Regions from separate parts of the Homo sapiens genome. Here region 2 is linked to region 1. The links come from fine-mapping of genetic effects on gene expression. A gene starts in region 1. The other region holds a variant in brackets. All regions are shown on one strand. Distances are between the middles of the regions.

Region 1 (4,405 bases):
GAGATAAAGATTTAAATAAATGGACAATATATAGCTTGTTTATGAACTGAAAGTCTAAATAGCATTAAGATATCAAATCTCCTTAAATTCATTTATAGATGCAATGAAATCCCATTCTGAATATCTGAAGTTTTTTTAAAAAATAAAGATTAATAAGGTGATTTCTAAAATTTATATGAAAATGTAGAGGGCTAAGATTAGGTAAGACCATCTTTAAGAAGACTAAGTTGGAAGACATACCAGATAGCAAGGTGTGTTATAAAGGAAGAAAATATGGCATGATGCAAGGCTAAACAAATGGAATGATAAAAGATAATAGTATAAAGTCAGTCTTATATCACTCTGGACATTTGGTTAATGGCAAAGATGGTAGTGTAGGTCAGTAGAGAAAGAATAGTCTTGAATAAATGGTGCTGGGTTAATTGAATTTTCAAATGGAAAAAAAATAGTTTCCAGGTTGATTTTACATGTAAGAGATAAACGAAGATAACATTGGAGAATATCTTCAGGACCTCGGGGTGGGGAAATACTTAAATAAAATTCAAAAAGTACTAATTAATAAGAAAAAGACTGATAAATTGTACTGCATTAAAAGTAGGAATGTTTATTCTTTTAAAGATAGCATTAGAAGAGAGATGTACAAGCCACACAGTGGGAGGATATACAAAACACATTTAACCAATAAAGGAATCTGTCCTGAATATAAAAATAGCTTCTATAAATCAATAAAAAATACAGTTAACTCAATGGAAAAATGAATACCTTAGGAACGTTACAGAAAAGGATATCCAAATGGCCAATAAACATATCAAAACTTCTCAACCTTGTTATGCACTAGGGAAATGCAAATTGAAATAACGTGTGAGACCTCAATACACCCACCAAAGTGACTAAAAAGATAAGAAAGAAAAAAATCCTTGACAATACCAAATATTGGTGAGAATGTGGAGAATTGAGATTTTTTTTTTTTTTATGTACTGCTGGAGGCACATAAAGTGACAGAAGCACTTTGGAAAATTGTTTGACAGTATCTAAGTCCTAGCGATTTACTCTTAGGAATATTCCCAACTGAAATATGTACATATGTGTAACCAAAAGTAGTACACAAAAAAGTGCATAGCCCTATTATTTATAATACCCCCCAAAATGGAAGAGACCCAAGTATCTACCCATAGACAAATGGATGAATAAATTGTTATATTTTCAGATAACATAATAGTCAGTGTTGGGAGATGAAGGTAGACTGGACTAGGATGATAATGGCAGAGAGGGGGATAAATGGATAGATTTGGCAGGTTTGTAGGCAGAGTTGACTGGACGTGGTGATGAATCAGTGTGATGAGAAAACAGGAATCATGGATAACTTCTAGATTTTGGTATGAGCAAACAGTTATTTCTCGTTATTTCTATTATTTCCATCATCTTTCACATAAAAGAATGCAGTCTCTCCCTGCTCCTGCTCTTGCCTTCCTATATTCCTGTTTTCCACGTAGCAGCCCAGAGTGGTCTTTTAAAAACATAGATTATCTTACTCCTCCTGCTTAATACCCCTTTAAGTACATGCTAAAATCTAACATGTACTGTTTTAATTCTACTGTGCCCCTCTTTACATGAGCTACGCTGTCTAGCTCTCTGACATCACCATATACCACTGGTCCTCTTTTTAACTATGTATGCTCTAAGGCACACTAGCTTCTTTTTGCTCTTTGGGACAAGTTTACTCTTGCTTAGAATCTTGCCCTTTGCCTTGGCTAGTTTCTTTTGTGTTTAAGATCTCAACTCAAAGATAATTCCCTAGAGAGGTCTTCCCCTGGCCATCTAATTTAAAGCACTTTCCTCCTCCCTCCCATCACTTTACTACAAGCTTGTCCAATCTGTGGCCCAGGACAGCTTTGAATGTGGCCCAACACAAATTTGTAAACTTTCTTAAAACATTACGAGTTTTTTTTTAAGCTTATCAGCTATTATTAGTGTCAGTGTGTTTTATGTGTGGCCCAAGACAATTCTTTTTCCATTATGACCCAGGGAAGCCAAAAGACGGGACACCCCTGCTCTACTACATCACTCTTTTATTTTCTTCATTGTTCTTATCACTATTTAAAATTATCTTATTTGTTTATTGTTGTTTACTAAATGTTTCCCCCTATTAAAGGTAAGCTGCTAGGAGTTTATATAGTTCACTGCTGCATAGATAGAGCCAAGACCAAGTAGAAGGTAGTTAATACATATTTGTTAAGTAAATGAATAAATGGACAATCTAACAATACAGAGTATTGAGTAGCTCCATGGAAAGCAAATTTATGCCCTCATTTTCCTTCTATATAGAAATAAACCTTTTAGTGACAGTGCCACTAAAAAGAAAGAGAAAAACCCTAAACTTCCAGAACCTTTTGCCTTACAGTACACATACATTCAGATTTCCACCTTGGTTAATAGTAAGTAGACAAAATTAAATGTATTCCTTCTTACCTTGTTCACCAAAAGAGCAAATAGAATGTAGCCTGAAGGAGCCTGCTGGGTACTGAAGGCTGAGATAATGGCCCTTTTATAGCAGGCCCCATGCAGGGAGGAGCCACCCTCTGTGGGATGGTCTGATTCATTCCTAACCAAACCTAGATCCACCCATATCTCCACCTCTATTTCTCCAGCAACCTGTGTTTACTTCCCAGCTTCCTCACGTACTCATCTGTACTTGTTTCAGCAAGTTCCAAATTTGGGTTTACATATTGGAAATTTTATGGAAGGGTCCCTTTGGCTAATACAGGTTGTTTGTGTGCAGGGCCCATACCTACTTTTCTGTAACCCCACTTTGGCTTGACAGGTGCTTGGTAAATATCTATTGATAAATACACTTCCTGATCCTTGTCTCTAGAAGAGTAGGACATATTAATACGTTTATAAGAACTTGAAATTCAATTTATGATAGGAAAACATCACAAGCATCTACATATATGTTCTTTTTTAATCTATGTATTCCATCTTTGGGTACTGAAGAACTTGCCATGAGATGAATGCCGTCTTCTAGAAATTATGGTCAGTAGAGGATAGGCAAATTTAATTTTAATTTTTCAAAGCAGAGCAAGAATGTGAACAATTGAACTAGAAGTGGTGATCACTAGGAGCATGAGTTTAATTAGGCAAGACTCATTAGTGTAATTTTACTTTGTTTTCAAGGTTATTACATCGTGGCATCAGAGACATGTTCCACATACTCTTCCTTCTTAAACCATGAATTTTCTTTTATTGCCATAAATATACAGGGGACTCCTATCCCTGGTCTGTCTTATGATATACACACTGTTATGTTGAGCAGATTGCATCTCCATATGGATGTCCCATGGTTATCTCAATCCATAGTGTTGAAAACTGAACTTACATTGTGCCTCCTACCAAAATGTACTATCCTCCAGAAGCCCATATATTGGTAATGATGCCCCCACACACTGGGTGTCTCAAGCTAGACAAAGTCATTTTCATTTCTCCTTTTCCTTAACCCCTCATGCTCATGTCACATCGTATCAATTATACTCAGGCTTAGATTTTGTTATGTAGGCCTATTCTCTACCTCCAGTGCTATAATTTTAGTTCTGGACCTGACCATCTTTCAATTGGGTATTGGTAAAGAAAAAAAAGTGTCGTAACTAGCCTCTCTCTCTACTATTAAGCTGGCTTACCATCTTATGTCATTCGCTGTGCTGGTTTCTTCTTGCCTGCAGAATTTCAGACTTTTTTACCTGACGTACAAGCCCCTTTACAATAGGCATGAATCTGTATCTTTTCAATTGTCCCTCTTATTACCTGTATCTCATGGAAAAGTCACTCTAGAATGAGCAATATTTCTTGGACGAGCCCATATTGGTCCACTACTGTTCAAAATCTTTGCGTGCTATCCTCCACTACCTTGACTTGAGAGACCCTCATCCTTAACTTCTCTTTATCTTTTAAGATTCTTCAAAATTACCACCTCCTGCATAAAGCCTTACCTGACATCTCCAGATTTATCAGTGTTCCCTCACATACTCTGTATTTACCTCTCAATAGCACTGGTGATATTTTATATTAATTACTTATTTATATGTGTGCCCCCTGCCCCCTGGTGCCTTGAATCCTGTGTTTCTTCTCACCCTAGCATTGACTGGGTCTGAGTCATCCTTTGTGTCCTTGGGCCCTACAGCAATGCCTGGGACATGATCAAATAAGGGATGCAAGGGTGTGCCAATCTTGTTCAGAGTCAAAGAGATAAAAATATGCCCGAGTTTTTAAAACTGTGTTTAATGTCCTCGTTCTTAACCTTATTAGACCATTGATTCTTTCTTTTGTGGAGTATTGGTTAACATCTGTAGAACACAGATATTCATTTTCTCCTTTTTTCTTCTTGGGTCTAATTTTTTTATGCCAGTAGTTA
Region 2 (4,405 bases), 120 kb before region 1:
CACAGGAAAAACATCGTTGTACATTTTTATCCGAGCTGTTGGATGACCAGGTGCATTGTCAATGAGCAGTAATATTTTGAAAGGAATCTCTTTTTTCTGAGTAGTAGGTCTCAACAGGGGGCTTAAATAGTTAGTAAACCATGCTGTAAACAGATGTGCCATCATCCAGGCTTTGCTGTTCCATTTATACAGCACAGAGTAGATTTAGCATGATTCTTAAGGGCCCTAGGATTTTCAGAATGGTAAATGAGCATCGGCTTCAACTTAAAGTCACCAACTGCATTAGTCCCTTACAAGAGAGTCAGCCTGTCCTTTGAAGCTTTGAAGCCAGAGAATTGACATCTCTGTAGCTATAAAAGTCTTAGGTGACATCTTCCTCTGATAGAATGCTGTGTTATCTACATTGAAAATCTGTTGTTTAGTGTAGCCACCTTCATCAATTATCTTAGCTAGATCTACTGGATAACTTGCTGCAGCTTCTCCATCAGCATGTGCTGCTTCACCCTGCACTTTTATATTCTGGAGATGGCTTATTTCCTTAAACCTCATGAACCAACCTCCGCTAGCTTCAAACGTTTCTTCTGTAACTTCCTTACCTCTCTCAGCTTTCATAGAATTGAAGAGAGTTAGGGCCTTACTCTAGATTAGGCTTTGGTTTAAGATAATGGTGTGGCAGGTTTGATCTATCTAGATCACTAAAACTTTCTCCAAGTCAGTGGTAAAGCTGTTTTGCTTTCTTATCATTCATGTGTTCACAGGAGTAGCACTTTTAATTTTCTTTAAGAATTTTTCATTTGCATTCACAAACTTGGCTAACTGGCACAAAAGGCCTAGCTTTTGGCCTCTCTCTGCTTTTGACATGCTTTTCTCACTAAGTTTAATCTTATTTATTTATTTATTTATTTATTTTTGAGATGGAGTCTCGCTCTGTCGCCCAGGCTGGAGTGCAGTGGCATGATCTCGGCTCACTGCAACCTCTGCCTCCCAGGTTCAATCAATTCTCCTGTGTCAGCCTCCCGAGTAGCTGGGACTACAGGTGCCTGCCACCACGCCTGGTAAATTTTTGTATTTTTAGTAGAGACAGGGTTTCACCATATTGATTAGGCTGGTCTTGAACTCCTGACCTCAGGTGATCTGCCTGCCTTGGCCTCCCAAAGTGCTGGGATTACAGGTGTGAGCCACCGTGCCCAGCTCTTATTTTTTATTTAAAGTGAGAGACATGTGGCTGTGCCTGGTGGCTCATGCCTGTAATCCCAGCACTTTGGGAGGTCGAGATAGGTGGATCACTTGAGGCCAGGAGTTCGAGACTAGCCTAGGTAACATAATGATATCCCATTTCTACAAAAAATTTAAAAATTAGAAGGGCATGGTTGTCTGTACCTGTAATCCCAGTACTTGGGAGGCTGAGGCATAAGAATCGCTTGAACCCGGGAGGCAGAGGTTGCAGTGAGCCGAGATCTTGCCACTGCACTCTATCGTGGGCAATAGAGTGATACTCTGTCTCAAATAAATAAATAAATAAATAAATAAATAAATAAATAAATAAAATAAAGTGAGAGACATGTGACTCTTCCATTCACTGAAACACTTAGAAGCCATTGTCTGGTTACTAACTGGCGTAATTTCAATATTGTATCTTAGGGAATAGATAGGCCTGACTAGAGGGAGAAAGAAAGGGGAGCAGCTGATCACTGGAGCAGTAAGAACACTCATTTATCGATTAAACTCTCTGTTTCATATAGGAAAGGTTTGTGGTGCCCTCAACAATTACAAGTGTAACAGCAAAGATCACTTATTACAGATCACCATAGCAGATATAATAATAGTGAAAAAGTTTGAAATATTGTGAGAATTACCACAATGTGACACAGAAACATGAAGGGAGCACATGCTGTTGGAAAAATGGTGCCGATGGACTTGCCAGACAGGGTTGCCTCAAACCTTCAATTTGTACAACACACAGTCTGTGAAGCACAATAAAGTGGAGCACAATAAAATGAAGTATGTCTGCAT[G/A]CAAACTCCTCTGAGGTATACGAGTAGGAGTAGAACTGCTGGTAGACAGGGTATGCACATTTCAAAGAAATCTGTTCCTTATCCTGTCTCTATTTTTTCAGTCTGCCAGTCCCCTTCCTGCCTTCTTTCATATCTATCTAGGATTCCATCATCACACTTTTGAAGTTGTGGGCCTCAATCATGTTATAATGCATTGTGATTGTTGTCAGCAATTGGTAAGCATCTCAAAAAAGAACAAACCAAGTCACCCAGATCACTCCCCAAAGTGGGCAGAAGAGAAAAGGATTGGGTTAAAGGTTGCAATAACAGTGACCCCCTCCTGCCAGGCATGATGAATCTTCCTATCTAGACAAACTTGCTTTAATCTCCTTTTGTTTCCCACTCTACTTCCTTTGAGAGATGTCAGAGATAATGATGGTGAGTGGGCTAAATTCACTTTCTTCCTCTCACTTCCTTCTCCACTTGGCTCTTAGCTTCACCTCCACTACTCCCCATGCACACATGCCTTCAGATATAATATTTACAGCTACTTATTGCCTTTTATTTGCTGTGCTCTCACTGCTAATTATCCTACATTATGTTTCATTCTCTTTGGTTTTGTTGCCAAGAAATATCCCTATATCCTTACTCCCTGCCATCCCTTGCTCTTAGAAATCTGGTTTTCCTTTAATGATGCTGTTTTCCTTTTTCTGTGAAGTGGAGCCTGGCTGTTCTGGTGAAGTCACTGTGGGCTAGTAGATTGAGAATGAGTTCATAGTCACACTTGAGTTCAAATCTGAACTACATCATAGGTGAGCTGTGTGTCCTTGGATTTATAACCTCAATTTGCATACTGAGGAGAAGTTTAAGGATCTCTGCATCAAAGAGTTATTGTGAAGGCAAAAAAGGGGTAAGTAATGAGACATTGGTACATAGCTCCTAGTATATTCCATATTGTTAGTTTTATTTTACCTGAAAAGTTGCTACTGCTAACAAGGCCCATCTTTCCTACAATAATGGAGTCGAGAGTGTAAGGTCTTGCCTAGGGGAAATTTGGCTATAAAATTATCCGTCCCTTCACACACATATAGTTTGGGCCAAGGAGGGGGCCTGTAAGGGAGCAATTCCCAACCTTTTTGGCAGCAGGGACTGGTTTCATGGAAGTCAACTATTCCATGGATGGGAGAACAGTGGGGGTGGGATGGTTTAGGGATGAAACTGTTCCATCTTGGATTATCAGGCATTAGATTCTCATAAGGCACATGCAACCTAGATCCCTCCTGGTGTAGTTCACAATAGGGTTCGTGTTCCTATGAGAATCTAATGCAGCTGCTGATCTGACAGGAGGCGAAGTTCAGGCAGTAATGCACGGTGGGCTGCCACTCACCTACTGCTGTGTGGCCTGGTTACTAACAGGCCACAGACTAGTACTAGTCTGTAGCCCAGGGGTTGGGGACCCCTGCTGTAAGGGTTTCTGGTTTTTCCTCCCATACCTATAACCTTCTCTACAGACCATTATGTGTCCTTGGACCCTTCATTTTTCCTTGTACCTGCCCTGCCAGTCTCAAACCTGGGATTAACCTAATTCCATTTTTTTTTTTTTTTGGCTTCTTCTGCCAGGCTGTTAAGATGGCAAATATCACATACATGGTGCCTTAGCTTATTTCTACACATTTATTATATTAACCTTGCCCACACTCTGAATATTGCCTGGCAATCCCTTTCATCATACCTAGGTGGTTTCTTTTACCAGACCCCTCAGCTGGAATTTTCAGACCTTTCCCTTTTCAGATCTTTCTAAGCCTCCTGCTTCACTCCCTCCCCATCTTCCTTTTAGTAGATCACTTTACTTCCTTCTTTGTTAAGATTGGGAAGTGATTCAAAAAGAATGAGGAGTCAGGCTACCAAGATTACAGTTAGTCTATTCATGTGGATGAAAAAATTTCCTCCATATCATTATCATACTTGTAGGTGTCAGTGTTGCAAAAGTCAGGGATGAAGTTGTTTACATTAGAGAGTTAGCAATTTATAGGAAAGGGCTCAAGGCTTCATTGATTTGGAAGACTAGGTAGAATCTTCTTCCTCATTTTTAGCTTATCTCAGGGTTGTAAAGATTTTTGTTTTTCCTCTCCAATGGTGCGACTTTATATGCTTAGTCATAATGGTGGTTGGGCAAGGAGTCAGTTTTGTTGTCTCCATAGGGGCCAACGGATGTGAATTCTCCTAACTTTGTTTCTAAAAGGAATCAACTAGGTCATGGACCACTAACATACAGATTCCTGGGTCCCATCTACTAGAAATTTGGATTTAGTTGATCTGGGATAGAGGCCATCAGTTTGCTTTTTAAATAATTACCATAGGTGATTCTGATGCAGCTCATCCTAGGAACCTCTTTTAAAAACATGGAGGTAAT

What was found. PIP is the estimated chance that this variant, and not a neighbour inherited with it, causes the effect. A credible set is the group of variants that fine-mapping cannot tell apart.
Region 2: its variant is the best candidate, but not a certain one, in a credible set for the expression of FLG in prefrontal cortex (CommonMind, PIP 0.65).

The regions. Positions count from the first base shown.
Region 1 is chr1:152,322,720-152,327,124 of GRCh38, forward strand. It overlaps FLG (filaggrin), which reads right to left and starts at 2,520. Exons shown (of 3, transcript NM_002016.2): 1 at 2,470-2,520. The region is part of intron 3 of CCDST (cervical cancer associated DHX9 suppressive transcript); the gene reads left to right.
Region 2 is chr1:152,200,666-152,205,070 of GRCh38, forward strand. All of the region lies in intron 1 of CCDST (cervical cancer associated DHX9 suppressive transcript), which reads left to right. Among named protein-coding and RNA genes, the nearest start is that of CCDST, 14 kb to the left of the region's middle. The variant G/A (reference allele first, on the strand shown) is at 2,014.